Regions from separate parts of the Homo sapiens genome. Here region 2 is linked to region 1. A link means that fine-mapping ties the variant in region 1 to the expression of a gene that starts in the linked region. Tissue or cell type: blood mononuclear cells. Region 1 holds a variant in brackets; the other region holds the start of a gene. All regions are shown on one strand. Distances are between the middles of the regions.

The links.
Region 2: it holds the start of NCK2, and the variant in region 1 is fine-mapped to the expression of NCK2 in blood mononuclear cells (TOPMed, PIP 0.96).

The regions. Positions count from the first base shown.
Region 1 is chr2:105,780,614-105,788,940 of GRCh38, forward strand. The region is part of intron 1 of NCK2 (NCK adaptor protein 2); the gene reads left to right. Among named protein-coding and RNA genes, the nearest start is that of NCK2, 40 kb to the left of the region's middle. RefSeq lists enhancers at 2,287-2,787, 6,073-6,644, 6,227-6,276. The variant A/G (reference allele first, on the strand shown) is at 4,556.
Region 2 is chr2:105,740,124-105,748,450 of GRCh38, forward strand. It overlaps NCK2 (NCK adaptor protein 2), which reads left to right and starts at 4,789. Exons shown (of 5, transcript NM_003581.5): 1 at 4,789-5,015. RefSeq lists silencers at 4,440-4,759, 4,950-5,009, 5,120-5,509 and enhancers at 5,880-5,949, 6,050-6,099.

The DNA of each region.
Region 1 (8,327 bases):
CACTGATGTGGTCTGAATGTGTCCCTCATATGTTGAGATCCTACCCCCCAAGGTGATGGTATTTGGAGGTGGGGCCTTTGGGAGGTGATTAGGTCGTAAGAGGGGAGCGCTTGCAAATGGGATTAATTTCCTTACGGAAGACACCCCAGAGGGCCCCCTCACCCCTTCAGCATGTGAGGACACAGCAAGAAGCCGCCGTGTAGGAACCAGGAAGGAGGCCCTTACCAGACACTGAATTTCCTGGTACTTTGATCTTGGACTTCCAGCTTCCACAACTGTGGGAAATAACTTCCTTTGTTTATAAGCCACCATTCTGTGGTATTTTGTTACAGCCAGCCAAATGGACTACCACAGTCACCCAGCCTTGACTAAGTGACCCTCTCTTTTCTCATTGCCCGAATCTAGATTTTGTCTCTCACCTGGTCGTGGTCTTCCTGTCTTCTTGCTTTCAGATTTTTCTCCCTCCCACCCACCTATTCCGGGGTTGGCTTTCAAAGATACAGATCTAATTGTTTTACTTCTCTTCTTATAAACTATTAGCTTCCCATTTCCTAGAGGTGCCTTTGTGTTGTCAAAGCACCTTTAAAATCTGATCTTTGCTCCACCTTCTACCATTCAGCCCTTGTGAATTTTATGAACATGATTACTCTAGGTATTCCCAAGGGAGCCGTGCACTTTTTACACCTCTGTGCCTTTGCAGGTCCTGTTGCTGACACAGGGGCAGCCTTCTCCCATCTCCGCTTCCACCTCCACCACTCATCCCTTCCCACACTGCAAGACTTGACTAAATGCAATCTCCCTTTTGAAGCCTTCAGGATTCCCCCAGCCAGAACTAGTGACCCTCCTTGGCCTTCTAGTCCATGTACGTCTGTTTCGTAATATTTCTGCACTCATTCCTGGAAGGCAGTACAGCCTAGCAGTTAAGATCTGGTTTGCTGGCATGAATCATGACCTGCCATTGCCATAGTGTGACTTTGGGCTGGCAGAGGTCTTTGTGCATCAGTTTTATTATCTGAAAAATGGAGAAAATAGCAGTCTTGTAAGGTAGTTGTTAGGTTTATAATAAAGAGCAATGCATGAAAAGTACAGAGCCTGTGGCTTGGCAAGTGATAATCCTGCAATTTATGTTGTCTGTGACAGAGCTGTCGCCTCTCCGCAGTACGAAAATTTGTAGACATGTCTGTTTCTCCAGTTGGAATGAGTCTGTGATAAGGACTCTGGCCACGTAGTGATGCTCATTAGGCATTTGCTGAATGAACTGGTATACGTGCATATGTATTCTTCCCTCTTTATTTCTTGCCGTAAATGCTTTTAACTGAAATAGGTACATACAGCTGTCAGTTTCTTGACTATGAAGTTGAGAATGTCCAAGTGAGTCCAAATTACCTGAAAACCTGCGGCCCATCAGGTCCCTCAAGCTGAGGGAGGAGCTCCTAGACAAAGACCTGGTTTCCCAGGTTTGAGGTCCATTCCTTCCTTACTCTGTTCTTACTATGACTGCGGGAAGTTGCTTTTGGGCTTCCGCGAGAGTGGGAGCCTATCACCGATCATCTCTTTCCCCTCTCTTTATAGGAGTAAGGGGACAACCCTCCTGGTCTGGCTGTAGGCAGGCGGGGTGGCCGGGCCCAGGGACTCAGGGTGGCCCTTCCTTCTGGTGTAGATGGATGGATTATCAGGCACATCCTGCTGATGGCTTCCACCAGCCCATGGGGATTAGTGATCTGCCTTCTCTCTCTGCCACCAAAAATCTCCCTAAAACTAGTTCCACTCTCTCCACAGCAGGTGTCAGAGTTGGGTTGATGGCCATTTGAGGACTTGAGAAGAAACAGTCTATATAATGAACGCTCTTTTCTTAAGTATTAAAGTTACTTTAAATTCTACACAAAATCTCACTTGAGGAATGCTGGCTATGTGAAGTGTCTTATGTTTTCATCCTCTCACTCTTGAACTCCATGCATAGGTAGTATGTGGTTTTAGTACTTTTTATTTTGTTAGAGCAGTTTTGTTTTCATGGCTAATTTAGCTCTCCTCATGCAACGTCAAATGATAGAACCTGATCGTTTCTGAGAGTGGGGGATCCGGCCCGTTGAAATCATTTGGCAAAATGGGCTGCAGCTGCCTGTAGAGGCGAAGTGGATGTCGGGGAGAAGAGGAGGTTGCAAAGGCTGTTAGGCTTGTGCTCAGCTCTGGCAGCCACAGCACCTGCCTCTCAGAGCTGGCTTCCAGTGACTAGTACTCACTTACTGTCCCCAACGCTCCCAACTGGAGAGGCGTAGGGGGCAGTTACTCCAGACACTTGTGCTCACCGGCTTGGCGAAGAGGGTGGCAGCCTCACCTTTATTTCCGGTGTCATAACAAGCCCCATTTGCAGCTGAGTTGGTCGACTATCATTTGCAACAGGTAAGCCTTAAGGCCAGAGCCTTTTTGGGTACCTGGGATATAACCGTGGAACAAGATAGATGGGGAAGCTGCCTTAGAATAAGAGTTGCAGAAGGCCAGAGCCCTGGGAGGTGGTTTAACTTTCTCTGCAGCACTGCTTTGCTTTCTGCCGCAGCAGCTGAGGAAGCCAATTTAACCTTGAATTTTCTTTAAGATGATATGTAATCTTTTGAAGATGGAAAGTAATGGCAGTGGAATGTTCTGCGTGCTGTTTGTAGCCTCGCTAGAGCTTGGGTGGGCCCCCATCGCCCTCCTCCTTTGGGGAGCCTCTAAGAGTCACTAGAGGAGACTTCCCTGAGCTTCCTTCCTCGGAGTGAGGCATTAAATTGTGCCCGTGTTCTGGGGTAGCACCGTGAAGGCCCGCGTGGAACATGGTTTTTATTTAGAGTAAAAACAGCTCGATGCAGCGTTGCCTGTCTGAGCCAGACTTAGCTCTTCATCTTCACCTGCTTGTGGGAAGCTTCGTACACCACCAAGGCACAGGTTAATGTGCAGTATTTGCCACCGTGGGTGCAGTTACTAGGAAGGCAGCCGTTCGCGGAGAATAATGGTGTGTTTTTTCCACCTTGTTCCTCTGAGCATCATGAAATACCTTAGCACGAAGAAACCCTGTAAATATTCTGGGTAATAGCCCTACATAAATGTATTCAGATTATGTTTTTTTTTCGCTAATAGGTGAAAAATGATGACCTCCACTCTTTCCAAGAGGGGTGGCCTGTTCCTGAGCGACTTCAGTGTGCTTCCCCACAGAGAGGGTTTTGCAGCTGGAAACAAGGGCATTTCTTCCCAGAAAGTGGGAGTTGTTTCGCTTCTCCCTTTATAGTACTGCCTTGTAGCAATCTGAAATGTGGATATATTTGGAATTTGCACGAGAAAATGAAACACCCTTTCTCTGCAGAAGACAGAGTGCCATTGCCTTTGCAGGTCACTGAGTAAGCAGCAGGACCTGCTTCAGCTGGACGGCAGGTCCCTTCTGTGGCACCTGGTTGGCCTCAACACCATGCGTGGCATTGGCAGTGATGAAATTCATTTTCATTCAGGAAAGCGTCACTGGGAGCTTTTCTTTTTTGAGAGAGGCTCTCCCTCTGTCACCCAGGCTGGCGTGCAGTGGCGTCATCTCTGTTCACTGCAGCCTCTACCTCTTGGGCTCAAGTAATCCGCCCGCCTCAGCCTCCCAAAATGCTGGGACTACAGGCATGAGACACCACGCCCGGCTGTTATTTCTAATAGGAAGTTGCCATCCCTTTTCTCACCCCAGTGGCATTTCTGGGGAGCAGTTTTCCCACCTGCTGATCGGACTCCTTGTGGTGGTCATATGGGCTTGGGGTGAATCGGGAGGGGAGAGTTTAATTTGCTTACATGTCAAGCTGTTTAAAACAGCCTTTCAGGCTAGTAAGTATTGATGCTGGTTATATTGAGGTGAAGGGGCATGTTAAATTCAAGATACATTTGTGTTTCCACTATGTGGAGCCTCGCTTGTGGAGGGTACAATGTAGAGATGTATTCAGGTCTTTACAATGTAGGTGAGCATAAATGCATTTTTATCATTTCTATAATAATCACATTTAAATTGAGCATGTCTGTGGTTAGGCAGGCAGTTACAAATGCTTGCCATAAAAGATTCTCATTTAGTCTAGTGAAAACTATAACACCATCAAACTTGCCCCTGGAGGAGCAGTGTGTCTGTTGAGGTCCATCCGTTCCTCAGCAGCCACTGTTCCAGGCCCGTGTTTCCCACACTTCCCATTTCAACATTCTTAGAATATGCACAAAGAGTGTGTCCTCAGATACTGACAGAATAGGATACACGAGTAAAGTTAGGAACACGTGCATGCACTTAGGCAGCCTCCCAGTTTGAAATGCTTTCTGAAGCAGGTAGTTGTTTTTTATGTGTTTTTTTGTGTGTTTTTTCGTTTTTGTTTTGTTTTTGTTTTTGTTTGTTTTGAGACGGAGTCTCGCTCTGTCGCCCAGGCTGGAGTGCAGTGGCGCGATCTCAGCTCACTGCAAGCTCCACCTCCTGGGTTCACGCCATTCTCCTGCCTCAGCCTCCTGAGCACATGGGACTACAGGCGCCGGCCACCACACCTGGCTAATTTTTTGTATTTTTAGTAGAGAC[A/G]GGATTTCACTGTGTTAGCCAGGATGGTCTCCATCTCCTGACCTCATGATCCGCCCATCTCGGCCTCCCAAAGTGTTGGGATTACAGGCGTGAGCGGCAGTTGGTTCTTTACGGTGTCACTGGGAGCCGAGGTGGCCATGCTGTGTGTGTCCAAGTGTAAAAAGAACCAGAGGACGGTTCCCCCGTCCTGGCCAAGGAGGCTAGTGGGAAGCTTCCTGAGATGTCTGTGGACACAGGAAAAAATTGTTGTGTTGTCCTACAGGGAGACATGTGAGTGTAATTCCTGCTATTCAGAAAGATAGAGTCCAAAGTGACACGACCAAAAGACCGCCAATACAAAATCTAATGCAGCCTGCCCAGTCCTCCTTGTAACCTGGTCCCACTGACAGGTTTCCCGCTGTGAACAGTAAAGGGAAAGGCCCAATCTCCAATAGCACCAATAGAGTGGAAGCCACAGGATTGGCTCTGAGCCACCTCAACATCCGCTCAGGTGTTTGCAGGTATGCCCAGCCAGGGAGTCTGGGGCAGCCCTGCCGAGGTTAAGTTTGCCTTTGTGCTTTATAAGCCGAAGCTTGGGAGAACCTGATCACACCCAAAATGTCATTCTGAGGGTCAGCAGGAGGTTGGGCGCAGGACTCCTAGTAAGTGCTGAGTCTATTTATTTAGCTGTTCTCATTTGATGTGCTGAAGAAAATAAATACGATATCTAGTAGCAGTGCAATACTTTTGGTCTAGATGATGGTCCAGGGAGGCCCAAATTATTTAACTTGGGCGACTGGTTCCCTGGACTTAATACCTTTTGCCTGTTTTTTGTGTTTTCGTAAACGTGTGTGTGTCCACTCTTTGCCCATCTGTCAATTTTCTCATTTACCTTCTGCCTTATTTGCCTTATTCTCACGTCCCTTCCACTGCACATCTCTCTATCAGTTAATTAATCCATTCATCCAGCCAGCCTTTTATTGATCATCTGTTGTGTCTAGGGCAGCATGATTAGCGTTGTGGACTGAACAATAAATTACAAACAATCCCAGCACCAGGGATGAAAAAATTATGTGTACAAATGACTCTGATAACAAATGATTATTTTGAATCTATGTAATAACCGTAGTGATCATTAGCTGAGCATGTGCTATGTGCCAGGCCTGGCTCTGAGCACGGACTTGTTCCATTAGCCCTGGGAACGGCCAGTGGGCAGGCTGGGGACAGGATGGGAGTTCGGGAAGGCTGGGAGTGTTGTCTTGGGCCTGTCTGGAAAGGTCTCTGCCTTTGGAGACCTGGCTGCCAGCCTTGGAGGTGGCCCTGGCCGCTGCTGGGATCTTGTGTCTGCTCCTCTCTAAGCATGAGATGCTGAGTCGGTTCCTTTAGCTCAGACTCATCCACACCTTTAGGAAAAGGAGGTAATGCCGGCCTCGCGCGGTTATGAGAGTGAAATTAAACTCCACATAGCTGGCTCAGGGTGAGGCCTGATAAGCACTGTGTCCCTGTGGTGGCTGTGGCCTGGCCTGACTCTCCTGGGTCCCCGGGCAGGGCTTCCTGTCTCCATCGCTGTCTCTTATTTCTCTGCCTCCTTCAGGTCCAGCTTCTACTCTCTCCTCCCTTCTGCCTCCCCCACGCATTGCTTCCTCCTGGGTTTGTTCCCCTCTGCCTCTCTTGGGCCAGTGCCTTCTACCAGCCCTGCTCCCACCCTAGCCTTAGGCTGACTCCCTTACCTCTGCTGCTCAGGCACCCTCCTTTCTAAAGCATGGTGATAACAGCACCGTCCAGACTCGAAGCAGGGGACCTGCGAAACTTCAGCTGGCGTGGTGCCGCACAGGTGCTCCCTGGCCTTGGTGGCTCTCAATGGGGTGAGCATGTGCCCTGCTTTCCTCTCTTCTGCCCTTTGCTGCGACTCCTCTGCTGTCTTGCTCTGCCCGCTGCAGGCGTGGTGGCACTGGGCAGCTGCTGTTACTCCCACTGCCCTCACCTTTGACCCTCAGCCCTGAGCACTCAGCTGGATTTCTCTTTTCTGGGTTGGTTGTCCTCACACTGAAGGAAGCTCAGCTCAGCGCCGTGGAAGGGGCAGGACCCAGTCTCAGCTCTGACATGGTCATATCTGTAGGCTTGGGCTGAGTCTTCCACCTGCAAGTGCAATGGACTGAAATTTTATGTCCCCCAGAAATTCAGGTGGTGAAGTTCTAACCCCCAGTGTGACTATATTTGGAGATGAGCCCTCTGAGGAAATAGGGTTGAGAGTAGGGCCCCCATAATGGGATTCCTGCCCTTCTGAAAAGAGACAGCAGAGAGCTCTCTCTGCCACCTGAGGACATAGCGAGAAGGCAGCCATCGGCAAGCCAGAAAGTGGCCCCCATCAGACTCTGCTGGCACTTGGATCCTGGACTTGCAGCCTCCAGAGCTGCGAGAAATGAATACCTGCTGTTGAAGCCCCCAGCCTGTGGTCTTTTGTTAGGGCTGCCTGAGCTGACTCAGGCAGTGAAGCTACCTCAGTCTCTCCCTGCGGTGGAGACTCCACCCCATGGGGTGTCAGGGTGCACTGGTGACCACTGCACCTTCCCCATAGGAGCATCTCCACTAGCCAGGTTCCTTCTTGCTGGAAACAAGGCCCATCTTTTCTTGATGACAGTGAGGGAATGGGTAGATGGGAAAATTACGGCCATAACTTGTTTTGCTTTAATTTTGGGCTACATCCATGTTATAAGATGATCTCATTCTGTTAGAAACACATGCGTATACCGCCCCCCACCGCCCCCGACTTGTAGATCCCTGGCCCATTGGCAGAAGTGAGTAGACCTGGGCTTCCTGCCCTCCTGGGCTCCACGTGCCACCAGCCAAGGACAAATCAGAGTTGGGATGTGTCTCCTTCCAAGGTTGGATCTGCTTGGATCCATTTTGGATGCAAAAGTGAGGGTGCTAGCTTTGAAAAAGCTTCTCAATTTGACTTTCCTTTCACTTCCGTAAAGTGTAGGGGATTAGAAGTGAGAGTTGGGGAGGAAGGAGGCCAATTCTAGATAAGTTTTTTCATCAGCTATGTGAATTGGAGACAAAAGTTAGAAAACCTAGGTACTAGTGCTGTCTTTTGCTTAAAGGATTTTTGTGCCCTTGAAACTTCTACACCCATAAAATGCATTTTCATGGAGTTAAAGCCATTGCTTAAAAGTAGGTTAAAAGGAGAGGGAAATTCTTTTCTCCATTTCTATCAACGCCATTTAGATGATGATGTTTCAGTCTTTTTTCCATGCTTAGGTTTCCTTTTTCCTCTGGTTTGTATATTTATAGTCATACTCTATCCAAATGAACTTTTCTCATTAATAGGGATTCTGAAACTACTGTTATCTCCATCTCCTCTTGAACAAGTAATACAAGCAATATATATTTTTGATATTTAACATATCTATAGTTGTACTATATTAATACAATTATTATACTGTATATTACTTATATGTAGGTTAAATAAGACACTTCTGTTGGCCAGTGCAGAACTTCCTCATCTCTAAGTGCCTTCTCCTAGAGTTTTCTATTTTTTTGTTTTCTTTCAATATGCTTTATCCATAGAATGCATAATTTTTTTTGTTTGTTCTCCTTCATTCGTTTTCTTCATTCTTATATAGCTTAAATCAGTTACAAACAAGCCACTGTAATCCAATACTCTGTACTTTAAACAAAAGCTATCTGTGTTAATTCTGTTGTGTTTTGACAGAGGGTGACTAGTCAGGGCAGCGGATCTCTTATCTGCTCGTTTGGGTTTCTAAAAATGTATTCTGGTTGCATTCAACTT
Region 2 (8,327 bases), 40 kb before region 1:
TGCTTTCCTTCTTGGCCTCGCGATCCGCTCTGTGCAGCCTCTGCTCCATTTAGGCAAGTGGGCCATTCTCTGTCCCTACAGGGTCCTCCCACGTCCCCCTGTCTGCCTCAGAGTTCTGAACTCCTGCCGCTGGGAATTTTCTCCCTGTCTATCTCCACCTTTCAAAATCCTACCATTTGCATTATTCAGGGGTTTGGGTTCCAAAAAGAGGAAGTGCCTCTGGGTACCTTAAGCAGAATAGGAGAATTTACTAGAAGAATATCAAGTAGCTCACAGGGGAACTGGAGAGCAGAAGGGGTGAGAATGGAGCTGGCTAATTCCTGTGGGAGGGATGTGCTGGGACTATTTCAGCCATGGCAAATTGAATCTCACCCTCTCTTGTCCTTTTCACCCTCTCCAGTTTCACAGTCTTGAGTGGGAGGGTTCCATTGGCCAATCCCAGGCTGTTCACTCTCACAGGGCTTCTGGGAATGGAGGGACCAAGGTGCCTACTCTGCCTCCCTCCAGGGTTCAGACAGGCTTCTCTAAAACCAGGAAGGGGCTAGAGAGGGGGGCAGCCAAATTAAAGGCAGCTTCCCACCATGTAATCTCTCAAGGTCATTGCCAATGCCACCACCTTTCATAAAGCCTAAAGCTTCTCCTGATTCTCTAGACATATTTTCTTTGGTACTGTTCATATTTAGTTTTATATTATAGTTATTTGTATGCTGGTTTCATCCTTCCTTTTGGGTCTTTCCTCTCCATTTCTCCTAAACTATTTTCCCATCCTTTCACTCCACTCCAGTTTGCGTTATAACCTCTCTGAATAATGCAATCTTATATCTGCTCTTTGCACATCCAGGTGTTCTTTGGTGTCTGCACCAAATGAATGAATCCTGAAGTGGATCTTATAATGCCTTACAAATAGAACTACACCAGATATGCTTAATTGAATTGAGGGTTACAAGAGAAGGTCATGAGAAAGGAGACATGAGTGTTTACCATGTGCTGAACACACAGTTGAGACATGTTTATATTATCTCCTTTAATTCTCACAACGCTTTGCAAGAGCACTATTAATATCTGAGGCTCAGAGAGGTGAAATGACCCCAAGGCACAGGCTCCAAGGTAGGCTTTGAGCCTCTGACGTATGACTTGGACAACACCCTCAACCTTGCTTTGTGTTTTCCGTGAGTCTAAGGAGGGGTTAGAGAAGGCCTTGAATGGAGCTCTGAAAGAGAAGGACGGGGACAGGGAATTCCTAGCTGCCTTCACACCACAGAAGGCTGAAACTAGTGTGACTCAATGTGGCACTGTGGGCAGAGCTGAGTGACTGAAGCAAACAGCTTATACTGGACAGAGGTAAAAAGGAGATTGTATGGCAGGGCTAAGTTGGAGAGGCCTTTGGAAGAGAGATCATAAGATGTAATGCTGATGTGATTTTAGGCAAAAGTTTACTGCACCTCCTTCCACTCCATGTTTTTTATGCTTTCAATACTTTGTGATTGAAGACAGTAAAACAGATGTGGACACATTAATGGAGTAGAATGCAGAAAAACCTATATATTTTTAGATAAAACATAAGCTTCAAAGAAATGTCTCCCCCATGTTAAGCCTTGCAGTGGGTTGGATGTTGGCCCCAAAAGATATGTTCACCTGGAAGCCGAGAACGCGACCTTATTTGGAAAAAAGGTCTTTGCAGATGTTGTAAGATAAGGATGTCGAGATGACATCATGCTGGATTAGAGTGAGCCCTAAATTCAATGATACTTGTCTTTACAAAAAGAGAGAAGGGAAAGGACACAGGGAACCAGGTTGTGTGAAGACAGAGAGGCAGAGGTGGGAGTGACACTGCCACAAGCCAAGGAATGTCTGCAGCCACCAGAAGCTGGAAGAGGCAGGGAAGGATTGTTCTCTACAGACTTTGGAGAGAGGCTGGTGTCTTGATATCAGACTTCTGAACTCCAGAACTTTGAGAAAATAACCTCTGTTTTGTCACCTAGTTTGGGGTCATTTGTTAAGGCAGCCCCAGGAAACGAACACAGGCCTCTAAGGGCTAAATACCCCAGCCTCTCTGGGGGAAAATGCTCAGTCTTCAGTCATCAGATAACTTTTGAGGAGACTGTGGTGGGCAATGGGGAGCCATGAGAAGTTCTTGAGCACAACCAGGGACAAATGGAAACAATTTACAGGAAGGTTAGGATGACATTGATGTCCAGTGTGAGTCTGAGGGATTTAAGAAGGAAGTAATGGGAGACCAGTTGGAAGGCAGTAGTTGTGGGGAATTGAACAAGAGTTTTGGAGTCAGGTACATGCTCTGACCCCAGTTCTTTGATCCACTGTTCAAGTGATTTCATCTGTAAAATGGGTATAATACTATTGTGTGTGGATTAGAGATGATATATGTCAAGAATTCAATCAAGGTACATTATAACTATTGCTAGAATGATGTATAAGTTAGGATGCCAGTGATGGAAATGGAAAGAAAGGTGCAGTGGAAAAGATGTTTAAGAATCACCAGGACTCAGAACCATGGGGGTAGTCTGCAAGGGGTCTTGGTGTCATTCAGCGCTCTCCCAGCTTTTCTTGGGGAGAACTCGGAGAGAGGGAAGGAAAAGCCAAGATAACAATGAGATTTCTCCCAGGAGCTGAGGTGCCTGGTAGACTCTTGGCCAGGCCTGAAACCATGGGAGGAGGAGCTGGTCTGGGGAGCAGATGAGTTTCATTTTGAACATGGTGACCTAGAAGAGATGCTGCGCCATGTTTAGGGGGTGCAGATTAGCTGGGGAGCTCTGCAGATTAGCAGGGGAGCTCTCTAAGGCTACAGGTCTGGGGGTTAATCAATGAAGGTTTAGACAGGGAGTGTACAAAAAACAATCAACTCTCTCTTTAAAAAAAAAAGGTGCGTATCAGAATAAAAACAAAGGGCCACCATCTGCCTTGGGGATATCACTTTTACAGGGTGGGAAGACAACAACCTCTCTAGAGGAGGCAGATGGGCAGGTCAGAAAGGTAAGAGAATCAGAACTGGCTGTGTTTGATGAATGAAAAGATGATGGTGTTTCAGGAAATAGCAGAAATGCCACATATTTCAGAAAACTCCACAGGATAAAGATTGATAAAGGGCCACTGGATTTAGATAGAGAATGACATCGGTGACTTCTAAAGAATCAGAGAAAGAAGAGGCATGCAAGAACCACGATTCAGTGAAAGTTTACAAAGCAAACAAGCTACAAACTGGGTCAATATTGCTATACTTATTTTGAGTAAATTAATCTAAAATTGGGCAGACTGATGACTAGAATTCTTCTTTTCTTATTGTAAAGCTAGATATTAGTAACACAAAACTTGCACAAAAGGATGAACTGAAGTAGCTTCTTTCACAAGGTCAAAACAAGGAAAAATGAGGCTGTTCTGATTCCCTGAGCTTGTACCTGATTCCTGCTCAGTGTACTGTGCTTCCTTCCACTTACTGAGCTATTGAGGGCTACCTACTGCCAGGGTACTTCACATAGGAGGTAAGTAAATATTATCTCCCCATATGACAGATTTTAGAAAGGCTGAGGACCACCTGTGCAACGTTACACAGTTCAGGAAGTCAACAGTCAAACACTCACCTGTCTGACTTCAAAGCTACGCTGACTCTAGTTACCTATCCTTGGGTACTTCCCTTCTGGAAGGAAGCAGGAGATGAGTGAATCAAATAATACAGCCTTGTAACCTTGGGTAAATTATTATTGCCTTAATAGTAAGCAGAGACCAGGAGCCTAAGAAAGAATCTCATTAACATGGATGCAGGCTATCCTGCCAGGAAATCAGAATCATTTGAATATTAGGATTTCCTTTGGGAAACCATATGGGGAGGAGAAAAGACATCCGGATGCATGTGTCTGTGAAAGGGAAACTTGTGTCTTTCCCCTTGCTCTTGGGTTTTCATCTTCCAAGTTTGTTTATAGGCTAGCCACAACTCGAGGCTGGGTGAGCTGAACGGTCCCATCATTAGCGACACTCCTTCTAGGGGCACATTCGGGCAGCTCCTCTTCGGGTTCTGCCCCCACGGGTGTGCAACCAGGATTCCACAGGCTGGGGCTGGCCTGGATGCCTGGGAGGCAACAGAGGTCGAGTTTCTTCTTCTTTTAGGAAGTGCCTCGGACAGGGATGATGGACTAAAAATGTGTCTGGTTGGGAAAGTAAATAGATGCAAAGCAAATAAATAAAAATGCCCACAAGCAATTACAGGGAGGAAGTGACATTTTTATTTAAGTCACTTTTCTGATGGACAACAGGCCTGCTTAGCTGAGTGCCGTGGGAATGCTTCCGGGAGGGGGGCGGCTGCCCAGCAACTAGAGCTTCGTGATAAGAACAACGAACAAACAAAAAAGAGGACGCAAAGCCCACCCGGCAGTCATCCCAGGCTGGAAGTTGCCGTCTGTGTTTTCACTCTCCTCCCCACCCACCTACCCTGCCCCCCACCGCCCGCACGCAATTTCGGGCGTGGGGACCCTTTCCTGCCCCCGGCGCCCGGCCCGTGCTGCGCCTCCAGAGCGGAGCGTCCCGCAGCCCCGCGCTATCCCGGCGCCCGTACCGGGACCCGGGCGCGGAGCCTGGCGACGACGGGGGGCGCCCCAGGTGGGTCTCGGGTCCCCGCCCCGCGCGCCCGGGCCTGGGCCGGCCCCTGGGCGGCGTCACGGCGCGGCCGGGGAGGAGCGCGGGAGGAGGAGGAAGAGCGCGGAGGAGGCGGGCGCTGCGCGCCGGGGGAGGGTCGCCGCCGCCGCCGCCGCCGCCGCCGCCGCTGCCGCGGGGATCGTCAGGCCGGAGCCGCGCGGCCGAGCGGGCGGCGGGCGGAGGGGAGGGCTTGGCGGCCGGGAGGCTCGCGGCGCCCGGGCCGGCAGGGTCCGCCCGGGCCGGCAGCGTCCGCCCGGCGGCGGGAGGAGGGAGCGGCGCAGACAAAGAGCGGCGCCTGGGCGGGCGCAGCGCGGCCACCGCCCCGGGACCCGCGCCGCTGCCCTCCGGCTCCGCGGGCGGCCCACGGCGAGGTAAGCGCGGCTAGGCGGGCGTGGGGCGGGGGCCACAAACTTGGGGCCGTTGGGCGGAGTTGGGAGCGCGGCGGGGCTCGCGGGCCGGGGTGCGCCCGGGAAGGGGCCAGGAGAGCGGGTCCCCTCCGCGCCCCTCCGGTGCTCTCGGCCCTGCCGCGGCCTGGGCGCCCCCGACCGCGGACTGCCGGGCACCTCCCGGCTCTGCACCTTCCTGCCCGCCTTCCCATCCCTAACCCCCACCATCGGGGGCCGGCCCAGGGGCGGGGACGCCAGCCAAGGGCGCGGGCGAGGATCAGGGCAGGGGGCCCGGCTGCGGGGCCCGGGGACTGGAGACCCCCGGGTGCGCAGGCTGCGCCTGGCCTGCAGGCGGGCGGCCGGCACGGAGCTCGGGGCTAGCGTGGGACCGTGCGGTGGCCAGGGTCGCCAGGGCGCGTGTGCCGGGGAAGAATAGCCGCGGATCGCAGGGCCCCGGCGCAGGGACGGGGGAGGCCGCGATCGGCCGGGAGAACTTAACCGTGTTTATTACAACTATTTATGTTCGCGCACAAAGCTGCTGTCACATTGCATAAAGGAGGTCCTCGCTTCGGCGAAGGGAGCTTTTGTGCCCGGCTTCAGGCTCTGCGCCCTGCCCCAGATTTACAGGACTCTAACAGCCACCTGAATGAACCAAAGTTTCTCACAATCGCTCGGCTCTCTCGGTTTTTTTCAGGGCGATTTAATCACCGAGTGCTTTTGGAAAAATTTGATATGTGAGTTTTAAGGCATGGAGGGTAACTGCCTTATGAGCACAGTTAGCTTGGCATTGTGTGGAGGGGTTTAATTTGCAAAACGCTTTAATTTGTAGACAATGGGGATCTCTGTGAAGGTCTGCGGTGGATGCTAGGGGTCATTGGCTGGTGGACCCCAGGCACCTGACTTAAACTAGTATTGTAACAGCTTCAGGGACAAAGCCGAGCGTGCGTGGAGTCGGCCTTGGCCACTTCACACAATTCAGGTTGGCAGATTCCTCTTTATTTGGCTTTGTTTATTTTGCCAACAGGTTTAAGGCTGCTTCTGCCAAGTTTGCATCTGCATAATGGGATGAGCAGGCCCCAGTGTGGGCAGGAGGGGGCCTAAAATATCGCAAGGGCCAGCTCCGTCCCTCGACCCAGAAAGAAACAACCCTGAGAGGCCGGTGGGCGTGGCTTGCTGGGACCTACAGGTAGGGGAGTCCCTTCCTGGCCCAGGCGCAGTCCCCGCTTCTCGGAAGGGATTTTGTGTAGGAATGAAAGTGATTCAGGGTGTTTTTCATGCCTCTGTTTTAGATGTAGTTATCAAGTCTCAAAAGTGACTGAAAATGAAATTAACCTGGGCCGCTTTAACTTACCAAAACGGAACTGTGCGTGTGAACACTCCCTCAATTCACTTTGCAAGCTTCATAGATAAGCAGGTGAATTAGTAACAGGATTCAAGCCTTGCGAGTTTTACGTAAAGAGAATGGCAGTCATCGGACACGTGGAGAAGAAATTGACTTCACCTGGAGATTGGGCTAGACATGGAGGTTTTTTGACGTTTGGAACAGGGGTTTCCTGAGAAGCAAGTGTTAACCTGCTTGTGAAGAAGTGAACACGAGGGAAAATCCTACCTCAGTATATTCTGCCCTGGAGGTTGGTTAGATGTAGTTTTGATTGGAGAAGGTGGCGGAATCTTAGTGGTCTTCTGGCGGCTACTTGAGGCTGAAATGGAGAACTTTAGGCATAGGAAGCTGTGGAGGTGCCTGGCCCACTTCCTGTCCCGGAGGCCTCGCCTGGATTCTGAGCTTCTTTCCTGCTTCATAAACATTCAGGGGGGTTGGTCATGAAACACTGGATGAAATTGGGTCACAAATTGCCATCAGGAAGAGTTGGCTGCTGCATAACCCCCTCTGTCCACTTGTGGAGAAACTGACCCTGTTAACCGTCGGGCTTGCTGAAGGTGCCTTGCAGGTGGCTGTGCTCAGTTTTCATGCTTTGTGTTTTGCTTAGGACACGCTGCATACTTAAATCTTCTTCATCCTTGCTCTGTTTGACCCTGCCATATTCCCAGGCTTTGTCATTTACATTTTCGGTTATTTAGCTTTTCCAACAAACAGCAGATCTTATGTACACAGTACTATATTTGAGAAATGCACTACCATCCATATTAAATACACCGGAAATCTTCCTTGCATGTGCACAGACTGGATAACCTTTTAAAATACCCTAAGACTCCCGGAATGGCGCAGAATGCACTGGAGTCCTTTACTTGATCAGTTGCACTAGCTTAGTTTGCCCTGGATAGACCAGGCTGCGAGGCTCTATGGGACACCCATTTTTCTAACTGCTCAAACTGGCTTGCCGTGTGCACTGGGGGAGACAGGGCTTGCGGAAATCATTCTCTGACATTAAAAATGAGGCTTAAAGACTGAAGAGCTCAGAATTGCTTGCTGGAACTACAGGGGAGGATGATGAGTGATGTTTGGAAAAACAAGTAAGCTAACTTTTTTCACAAATGAACTGGAAACTCCCTACAGCTCACTTCAGATGCTTAGGAAATTAGTTTTCCCATCCAGAGGGTTTGCGAGTGGCACTTCCAAATGGTTTCTGTTTCCTAAAATGAGTGATGGAAATACTTCACGGCACGTTTTCAAAGGGCCTAAGCTAAAATGTGATTTCGTGTATCTTGTTCCATGCCTGAGTTAAGGCAACTCAGAAGAAGGTCGTGACGGCCTTTTAACGGGCTATCAAAAGTGTGCAGCTAAAGCAAAAACAGTTTTGCATTTCTTTAGGCCATTTAGTAGCACAATTAAAAAATTAGACTCTTTTCTTTTCCTGCATTTTCCTTTGAACATTTCCCAAAGTATGTTTATTTCTAAAGGTAAATGAACGTTAGCAAGTATTACCTCTGCCCAGTGACACACATCCACATGTGTACTGGCACATACATTCCTACCTCAAGAATCTTAGTCCTTGAAACTGTGGAAATGAAAGTTATTTTGATTGAGGTAGCAGTGTCACAGTGATGTCATACGGTGTCACTGTCCCTGACCAGCCTCTGTGTTCCCTCTCAACTCCTTGGCTCAGTCTCCTCCGTGTCCTGAGTTCTTACTCATCCCAAGGGTCGTCTCTTACTTCTTTTCTTCCCCACATCTTATCAACTCCAAACTAGAGGGGATGGCATCATCTTTAAACTTCCACAGCACTTTCTTTGTGTCCCTGATTTGTCATCTGTGACATTCTTTCCTGCAGTTGTTTTTTTTCTTTTTTTAAGGCAGGGTTTCACCCTGTCACCCAGGCTGGAGTACAGTAGCATGAT